Homo sapiens: one gene and its partner. The protein of the gene in region 2 purifies or fractionates together with the protein of the main gene of each other region. This does not show direct contact. Each region holds a gene or a part of one and is shown on either strand. Other genes may lie near its edges. The genes, in order: CST8 and MGST2.

Region 1 (4,426 bases), on a different chromosome or scaffold from region 2:
GAGAGCTTAACAGGTGCGTGCCCCCCTCCTCCCACTAAGGGCCAGGCCTGGGCATCAGAGTGGGCCACGTGACCCTTACCCTGGCAGGACAGGGCAGGGGGTTACTGTTGGCCCAAGCCAAGGGAGTTCAGAGGCCAGGCATTCAGGAAGCCAGAGTCATTGGCACAGGTGGGCAGAAGATGCCAGAGGGGCCCTGTATTAGTCAGGGTTCTTTTAAAGGGACAGAACTAATAGGATATATATGGTTGTGTATATATATAAAGTTAATACTTAATAAACTCCCCTTTATATATATATAAAATATATATATAAATTATATATATATTAATTATATATATAATATATATATAAATTATATATATATTAATTATATATATAATATATATATAAATTATATATATATTAATTATATATAATATATATATAAATTATATATATATTAATTATATATAATATATATATAAATTATATATATATTAATTATATATATAATATATATATAAATTATATATATATTAATTATATATATATAAAATATATATAATTTATATATATAAAATATATATAATTTATATATATAAATTATATATAAAATATATATAATTTATATATATAAATTATATATAAAATATATATAATTTATATATAAAAATTATATATAAATTATATATATAAAATATATATATAAATTGTATATATATAAAATATACATATAAATTATATATATATAAAATATACATAAATTATATATATAAATAATATGTATATAAAAGGGAGTTTATTAAGTATTAACTTACATGATCACAAGGGCCCACAACAGGCTGTCTGCCAAACTGAGGAGCAAGGGGAGCCAGTCTGAGAGTCCCAAAACTGAAGAACTTGGAGTCTGATGTTCGAGGGCAGGAGGCATCTAGCATGGGAGACAGATGTAGACTAGGAGGCTAGGACCATCTCTCCTTTTCACGTTTTTCTGCCTGCTTTATATTCGCTGGCAGCTGATTAGATTGTGCCCACCAGATTAAAGGTGGATCTGCCTTCCCCAGCCCACTGACTCAAATGTTAATCTCTTTTGGAAACACCCTCACAGACACACCCAGGATCAATACTTGGTGTCCTTCGATCAAATCAAGTTGACACTCAGTATTAACCATTGCAGGCCCCTGACTCTGAGGGCACAGCAGGAGGCATTTGCTTGCTCTCTGTGCCCCTGTGAGAGCTGTTTAGACCAAAGGCCGGAGGCTGGCAAGTGGGAGATGTCCTCACTGGGACAAGACACAGGTGCTGAATTACATCACAAAGCGTAACCTCCCTGCAGGGCGTGGACTCAGAGGGGCAAGAGAGACCGCAGACCAGGACCCACAGAGACCCTTGACTGGGCCACAGGCATGAACTAAGAGTGCTGAAGACCTAGGAGAACCACTGGTCAGGTCAGCTCCCAGCTCCACAGGGAGTAAGAAGGAGCTGCAGGCACAGCAGGCTGAAAGTCCACCAAGGGCTGAGGCCACAAGGCCTCTGGGGCAGCCACAGTTTTCATGATCACATCATACAGGACTGAGAAGCAGATAACAAGAGTGACGCTCACAGGGGTAGGCATAGACACACTGGGGCCGAAGGGGAGAGGAACTCTCCCTAGACACACAGATTGCTCTCAGGGTAAGGAGGGGAGGCTGGTAGAGAGACTCCTTAACTGGCATTCCTGGGTGGGTTTCCATGGAGAAAGAGAGGACAAACCCCAAAGAGTGACCCTAATGGCCTGTCTTGAATCCAGCTGGGCTGACGCTAACAGGAGGCAGTGTGTGGCTCGAAGATTCTTGAACCCACAGCAGCAGCTGCGGCCACCCCATCCTGCCCACAGCTCCAGCCCTGAGACGACGAGGAGGAGAGTCGACTTTGCCTCTTGCCCAAGGGACCATGCCCAGGTGCCGGTGGCTCTCCCTGATCCTCCTCACCATTCCCCTGGCCCTGGTGGCCAGGAAAGACCCAAAAAAGAATGAGACAGGGGTGCTGAGGAAATTAAAACCCGTCAATGCCTCAAATGCCAACGTGAAGCAGTGTCTGTGGTTTGCCATGCAAGAATACAACAAAGAGAGCGAGGACAAGTATGTCTTCCTGGTGGTCAAGACACTGCAAGCCCAGCTTCAGGTAAAGGTGTCTTTCCATATAGGTGGACATTTGCATATGGTGGCACAGTTGAAGCCAGACTGAAAGAGTGGGCATATAAGAAAAATATCACTATGCAAAAATCCTAAATATGTGAATGCTTAAGAGCCTAGACACTTCCACAGCATCAATAAGGCAGTGAACACACAGAGCACTTTCTACAAACGCTTGCGCTTTTGTTCTAAGTCCTTCGCATAGATTAACTCATTTAAACCCCAAACTGCAAATCAAATGTTCATGTATTTGCTAAGGTTGGGAGACAGATAGAATGCTAGCCATGAGAAAAGATCTGATAAAGGTGAGTCCAGGTGAACCTGGACCCAACTAGCAGACACTCCTTCATCTCCTGCTGTAATCCTTTAATGCCAGATGAAAACAGATTTAAATGGACATCACAAGTAGCCTTGATTGCATTCAGTCACTAATGAGTTCAACAAATACTAATGTCCTGCTATAAACCTACTGCTGTTCTACTCACTAAAGACTCAGCAGAGAACAAGACAGGCAAACTCATGCCTGCATGGGTCCTCATGGACTGTGTGCTGAGCTGGTGGGAGGGGCTTTGGGTGGGGAAACCCCAGAGGATGGGAGGTTTCACAGGAATCTGAGGGACTGGGGCCTAATGTGGCTGAGGGGGCTGTCCCCTGGTCAGGCCTGTGTGAACCTGAGCATCTCAGGCCCAGGAGAGCTGATGGTTCTGAAGAGCCCACCTTTCACCTCTCAGTCCTCACTGAGCATGCAGCATGCCCTGGGCTTGGGGACAGGAAATGGAATGAGAAGGCCTTGCTTTCAAGGAGGTGACAAACTGGAGAGGAGTCTTTACTCAAGTGTCCAGCTCCAGGAGCCTATGGAGTCCTGACTGATCTTGTTGTACACAGGGCTCCAGGCAGTGGGCATCTTAGCCTTCCGCTAAAGCTCTGTCTGGGGGTGAGGGAGGAAGGAAAGAGGAAAGGACGAGAGTAAGAGTAATTTTTTTTTTTTGTCAAAACTTTAAAAAAGTACAACTCTTTTGAATAAAATTGCATAATTGCTAACCAACAGGTCACAAATCTTCTGGAATACCTTATTGATGTAGAAATTGCCCGCAGCGATTGCAGAAAGCCTTTAAGCACTAATGAAATCTGCGCCATTCAAGAAAACTCCAAGCTGAAAAGGGTAGGTGATGAACCACTCATCTGTGACGGCCTAGGCAGCTCTGAACCCAAGAGAGAAAGCTGAGGCACGCAGACCTTCTCTTTGAGGTCTGGGTGGCTCCCAGTGTTTAGCCCCAGATAGCCAACCCTGTGGCCTTTATAGCAGAAGATCCAGGGCCACGGAACGTGGTGGAACCCTCTGAGCTTCTTTCTCATCCTTCATCCTGCAGAAAGGATGTTGTCAAGACCACTCTTATCTCAAGGGCTCCATTGACTTCTGGCCTTTTGATGCAGGCACACTGGACAACACATAATCACCAAAAGCCTGTCCTCTTGGGTCCAGACAAGCCACCCACTATTGCTGGGCCCATGGTCACTCATCCCCATACAGACACAAAAGGAACTTCATTCATTCACTCATCCACTCATAGAAAATTACTGAGCACCAGGTGCTACGTGCTTTGCACCAGGTCTATTCTGGGTGCTGGAGATTAAGCAATGACTAAGCCAGAGGGTGGCCCCACCCTCCTGGGTTTACAGTTGATTTTTGCTGGGGTCAGTCCAGGTTTCCAGGAAGGTTGGGGCAAACCCACAGACTCCCAACAAAAGGAGGACTTGGCCCAGGGGCTTTTGGCTTCAAGCCTGTATTTTTTATCTCAGAGCAGCTCATAGGCCAGTACTTGGTCCCAGACAGATGAAGGCCTGAGCATTCTGCAGGTTTGCCCAACAGGTGCATCACTGTCCCTGTCTTTACATTGGTGGTTCTCCAATGTGAGCAGGCATCACAATCACTTGGAGGTATTGACAAACCCTGATGACCGGGTTCCACCGGCAGAGTTTCCAATTCAGGAAATGGGATCTAAGAATTTGCATTCTTAATGAGTTCCTGAGTGGTGCTACTGCTGCTGCTGCTGCTGGCCTTAGGATCATTTTGAGAACCACTGCTTTATGCACTGCCATGGCACAGGAAATTGCAGGTACATTTATGAACTGCCCTGCCATTATGTTTGATGAAAACTGCCTCTGTATGCTCAAATGAAACAAACCCTATCATTTCCAGCTCACAATAAATGACCCGTCAGGACAAACATTTCAGCAGTGAGCTTGTCCGAATGCTATCTGATCTTTTATGC
Region 2 (4,329 bases):
CATACCCTGCCAAGCAAAGACCCAACTGAAGAAATATCCCTATCAAATCCTGACAGAGCCCAAGGAATATCCCTGGCCAAACCACCTGAACATAAGAACATCTTATCAATATCCTCCAGGGCAGCAAGCCATACTGCCCAAAACCCTCCTGCCCATACCTGTACATACCCCAGCCTGTAAGCAATGGCGGGCTCTGGCATTAAGCTGGTCCCCCACCTCCACAGGTTTTTGTAATAAACCTGTGTTGTTGTAAAGCCTCTCTCTCTCTCCCTCTCCCCCTCTACCCCCTCCCCCTCCTCTCTCTCTCTCTCTCTCTGTGTCTTTCTTGAACCCCACCTTCCCTTTAAAAAATCTAACACTTAAGACTTTTTGTAGAAATAAGACACCAAATTCCAGCCTGACTCCAGTATAGCATCACATGACAGATAGCAGGCCTTGAAAGAAATTGAAGTATTTTACCCTAAAATATATTTCTTTGTCATATTTTGAAATGGTCCTGCAAAGTTGTCTCTTGTGGGGAAAGTCTACATTCTGTAGAAAATCCCTTTCCCTTGCCAGGTCTTTTCTCTGATCCAGGAGAGAATTAACAGAGTCTGGCACCTTTTCAAGTCTCATAAGAAACATTTACAATCTATTCTCTCCAAACGCTGCTACCTGGAAGCTTCATTTGCATAGTAAGAACCTTGGCCTCCACAACCCCTTATCTTAACCCAGGCACTCCCTTCTATGGATTTGAGGTCTGTAGATAAACTCTTTTAATCAATTGCCAATCAGAAAATCTTTAAATCCACCTATGACCTGGAAGCCCATGCCCCACTTCCAGTTGTCCCGCCTTTTGGGACCAAACTAATGTACATCTTACATGAATTGGTTGATGTCTTATGTCTCCCTAAAATGTATAAAACCAATCTGTAGCCAGACCCCTTTGGGCAGATGTTCTTAGAATCTCCTTGGGCTGTGTCACCGGCCACTCGTCCCTCATGTTTGGCTCAGAATACAGCTTTTCAATTATTTTACAAAGTTCAACTCTTCATCAACATCTTTTTTTTTTCTTTGAGATGGAGTCTCGCTCTGTTGCCAGGCTGGAGTGTAGTGCTGTGATCTCAGTCCACTGCAACCTCCCCCTCCCAGGTTCAAGCGATTCTCCTGCCTCAGCCTCCCTAGTAGCTGGGACTACAGGAGCGTGCCACCATGTCCAGCAAATTTGTGTATTTTAAGTAGAGACGGAGTTTCACCATGTTGGCCAGGATGGTCTCGATCTCTTGACCTCGTGATCCACCTGCCTTGGCCTCCCAAAGTACTCGGATTACAGGGGTGAGCCACCGTGCCCGGCCCTAACACCTTGTCATTAAACATTCCCTGTCCACCATTAATCATCATTCACCCAGTCTCCTCTCCTCTCTCCCCACCCCTACCCCCACTCCATCCAGCCCCCTAACATTCTGGCCCCAGTTCACACAGCCCCCTGCACAAGCAGCAAACAGGGAGGATGAGCACCTCTGTCAGCTTTGGGACATCTGTGGACCTGCAGGCCTAGGATAAAGGCGCATGCAGGTTTGGTAGCACCTGTGAGTCAGGATGCTACCAACAGTGAGCCTTAGACCTGCTAAATTAGGTTTAGCCTAAAGCTGCCTTCTGACATATTTTAAGTTCAGCCTAAAGGTTTCTCCGTACATCGTGAACTATATGCTTCCGTTTTCTGGGAGTCGCTTTCCTTTTTCTGTCCATAAATCTTCTTCTACCACGTGGCAGCCCCAGAGTCTCTCTGAACCTATTCCGGTTCCCCATGCCCAACTGTGAATCGTTCTTTGCTCAATTAAACTCAGTTAAATGTAATTTGTCTAGGGTTTTCCTTTTAACAGATCTAAGTGCTTCTTTAATTAGAAACAAATATCCTGCTCTTCTCCACAACAGATTGTGTGAATCAAACCACAAAACGTGAGTCTGAAGGTTCAAGATCTTCATACAATCTCAAAACAGACTGGCTAGGCAAGACATTGAGCATGCACGGAGGCCTGGACTGGATCCTCAGCTGTGAGGCCTTCCTGCTTCTGGCTGTTTGTGTAACCTGAGCAGTCTACGGCTTGGCCCTATTTCCTGGTACAGGCATACTTGGAAATATAAAGAAATATGCATGCTTGGTAAGAAGTCTTGCACTCTTGCACTCGGACCCCTTTCCCCAGCTGACATTGTAGGTAAGATAATATGAATTGAGCAAATGTGACTCCCATGGAGTAAAAGCCCTCTATTTAACCAGGCAGTCGAGATATTGAATAATCCTAGTGGGAAGCTGTTTTAAAATTTAGAGCTAATTACTTAATCTAAAGCTAATATTTCTGAAGGAAGTTTTTTTCAATCTGATAATCATACCACCATAGGCAGTTTATTTAAGAAAACACATTAATTAAAACATCAACGTTCAAGAAATCACAACCAGGTTTAGAAGCAGGCACGTTTCCTTTGGAACACTTGTAATTAATATTCACACCACTTCCTGCAGGTTAGCAGGCTACTAACGCTCGTTTGAACGGGCTGTGGGTCGTAATCACAGATGATGCAGAATCGCTGAGCTCTGAGGCCCCACAGCGTTCCAGTTGGGAGAACTAATCTCTGGAATGTTCTCAGTCTCTGCTTGCCCCTGGGAAGGAGGGTAGCAGGCGGCATGGGTGACCCTGAGGCGACTGTGCTCTGAGGACCCAGAGCTACCTGCAAGGGCAAGTAGGAAACAAAACACCGGACCCATCTCCCTCCCTCCCTCTCTCTCCCGCAAGCCTTGTCACACACACACACACACGCACACACGCGCACACACACGAACTTCCCATGCCTCTTACTTTGCTGACAGGCCGAGAGAATAGAGACAGCAGCCAGCAGGATCGAGTTCCCGGCCATCTTTCTCACGGAACTATTTGTAGAGCGCACGGGAAGATAAATGGCGCTTCTTGACTTTGAATGCTGACCTTCCTTATCGGGTAAACAAAGTTGGGGACCGGGTGGGGGGAAAAGGCTGATTCAAGCGGCTGAATGACCTTTGCTCTGGAACAGAAGTCAGGAAGGCAGGCAGGTCTGGGGCTGCCGGTCACAGATCTTTATGGGGCTGGGAGTTGCTTCCGGCGTTTGTTTTAAGCCTCTCCCACGGCCAGCGGGCAGGGCTGTAGCTCACTGTGGGACCAGCCCTCCAGCCGCAGTGCCAGTTACACTATCTTCTCTGCCAATGCACAGACTCTCTGGATCCCTTTCATCCCCACGCCCTTCCCTCCTAGGGCCTTGCTGAGACCTTTCTCACCTCCTGTGGAAAAAGTGAGAAGGAACTACTTACTTAATCCTGTTGACATTTTAAATGCTAATTTAAGCCAGTTCTAATGTATTCACGCTCTGAATGGCCGATTTAGGATTTGAACCCAGTCTAGCAGATTACAACTGTGCCCTATCCCCTGCACCAGGCTGCCTCTCACTGTCACCTAGAGACTCTGATAATAATCATACTTTTTTTTTTTAAGACAGGGTCTTGATCTGTCACCCAGGCTGGAGTGTGTGGTGGCACGATCATAGCTCACTGCAGCCTCCAACTCTTGGGCTTAAGTAATCCTCCTGCCTCAGCCTCCCAAGTAGCTAGAACTACAGCCACAAGTCACTGTGCCCAGCCATTTTTAAAAAAATAAACCGGCCGGGCGCGATGGCTCACACTTGTAATCCCAGCACTTTAAGAGGCCAAGGAGGGTGAATCACGAGGTCAGGAGATCAAGACTATCCTGGCTAACACAGTAAAACCCCTTCTCTACTAAAAATACAAAAAATCAGCTGGGCATGGTGGCACGAACCTGTAGTCCCAGCTACGCAGGAGGCTGAGGCAGGAGAATCTGCTCTTTAGAGATGCAGATTCTGGCCTGGAAGGATGGCTCATGCCTGTAATCCCAACAGTTTGGGAGGCTGAAATGGGCAGATGGTTTGAGCTCAGGAGTTCGAGACCAGCCTGGGTAACATGGCAAAACCCCATCTCTTAAAGAAATACAAAAATTAGCAGGGCATGGTGGCACGTGCCTGTAGTCCCAGCTACTTAGGGGGCTGAGGCAAGGGGATTGCTTGAACCCAGGAGCCTGAGACTGCAGTGAGCCAAGGTCGTTCCACTGCACTTCAGCCTGGGTGACAAAGTGAGACCCTGTCTCAAACAAATAATAAAAATAAAGATGCAGCTTCCCAAAAACCAGAGCTGGGGGCCTTTCCTCACCCCATCCTACAGCACCATTAGAGGGTATATCTTGGCTCAAGCTGCTATAACAAAGATACCATAGACTGGGTGGCTTACAATAGCAATTTATTCGTCACAGT

Evidence for each region.
Region 1: the proteins of MGST2 (region 2) and CST8 purify together in Homo sapiens (affinity purification with mass spectrometry; one large-scale study listed by BioGRID and IntAct). This does not show direct contact.

What each region holds. Positions count from the first base shown.
Region 1 is NC_000020.11:23,489,757-23,494,182, forward strand, and holds the start of CST8 (cystatin-8 precursor), read left to right. Parts: upstream 1-1,360; 5' UTR 1,361-1,586; exon of another isoform or gene 1,587-1,653; intron 1,654-1,768; 5' UTR 1,769-1,911; coding exon 1,912-2,142; intron 2,143-3,201; coding exon 3,202-3,315; intron 3,316-4,426. UniProt on the Homo sapiens protein: Performs a specialized role during sperm development and maturation.
Region 2 is NC_000004.12:139,664,583-139,668,911, reverse strand, and holds the start of MGST2 (microsomal glutathione S-transferase 2), read right to left. Parts: upstream 3,094-4,329; 5' UTR 2,893-3,093; coding exon 2,835-2,892; intron 1-2,834. UniProt on the Homo sapiens protein: Catalyzes several different glutathione-dependent reactions. Catalyzes the glutathione-dependent reduction of lipid hydroperoxides, such as 5-HPETE.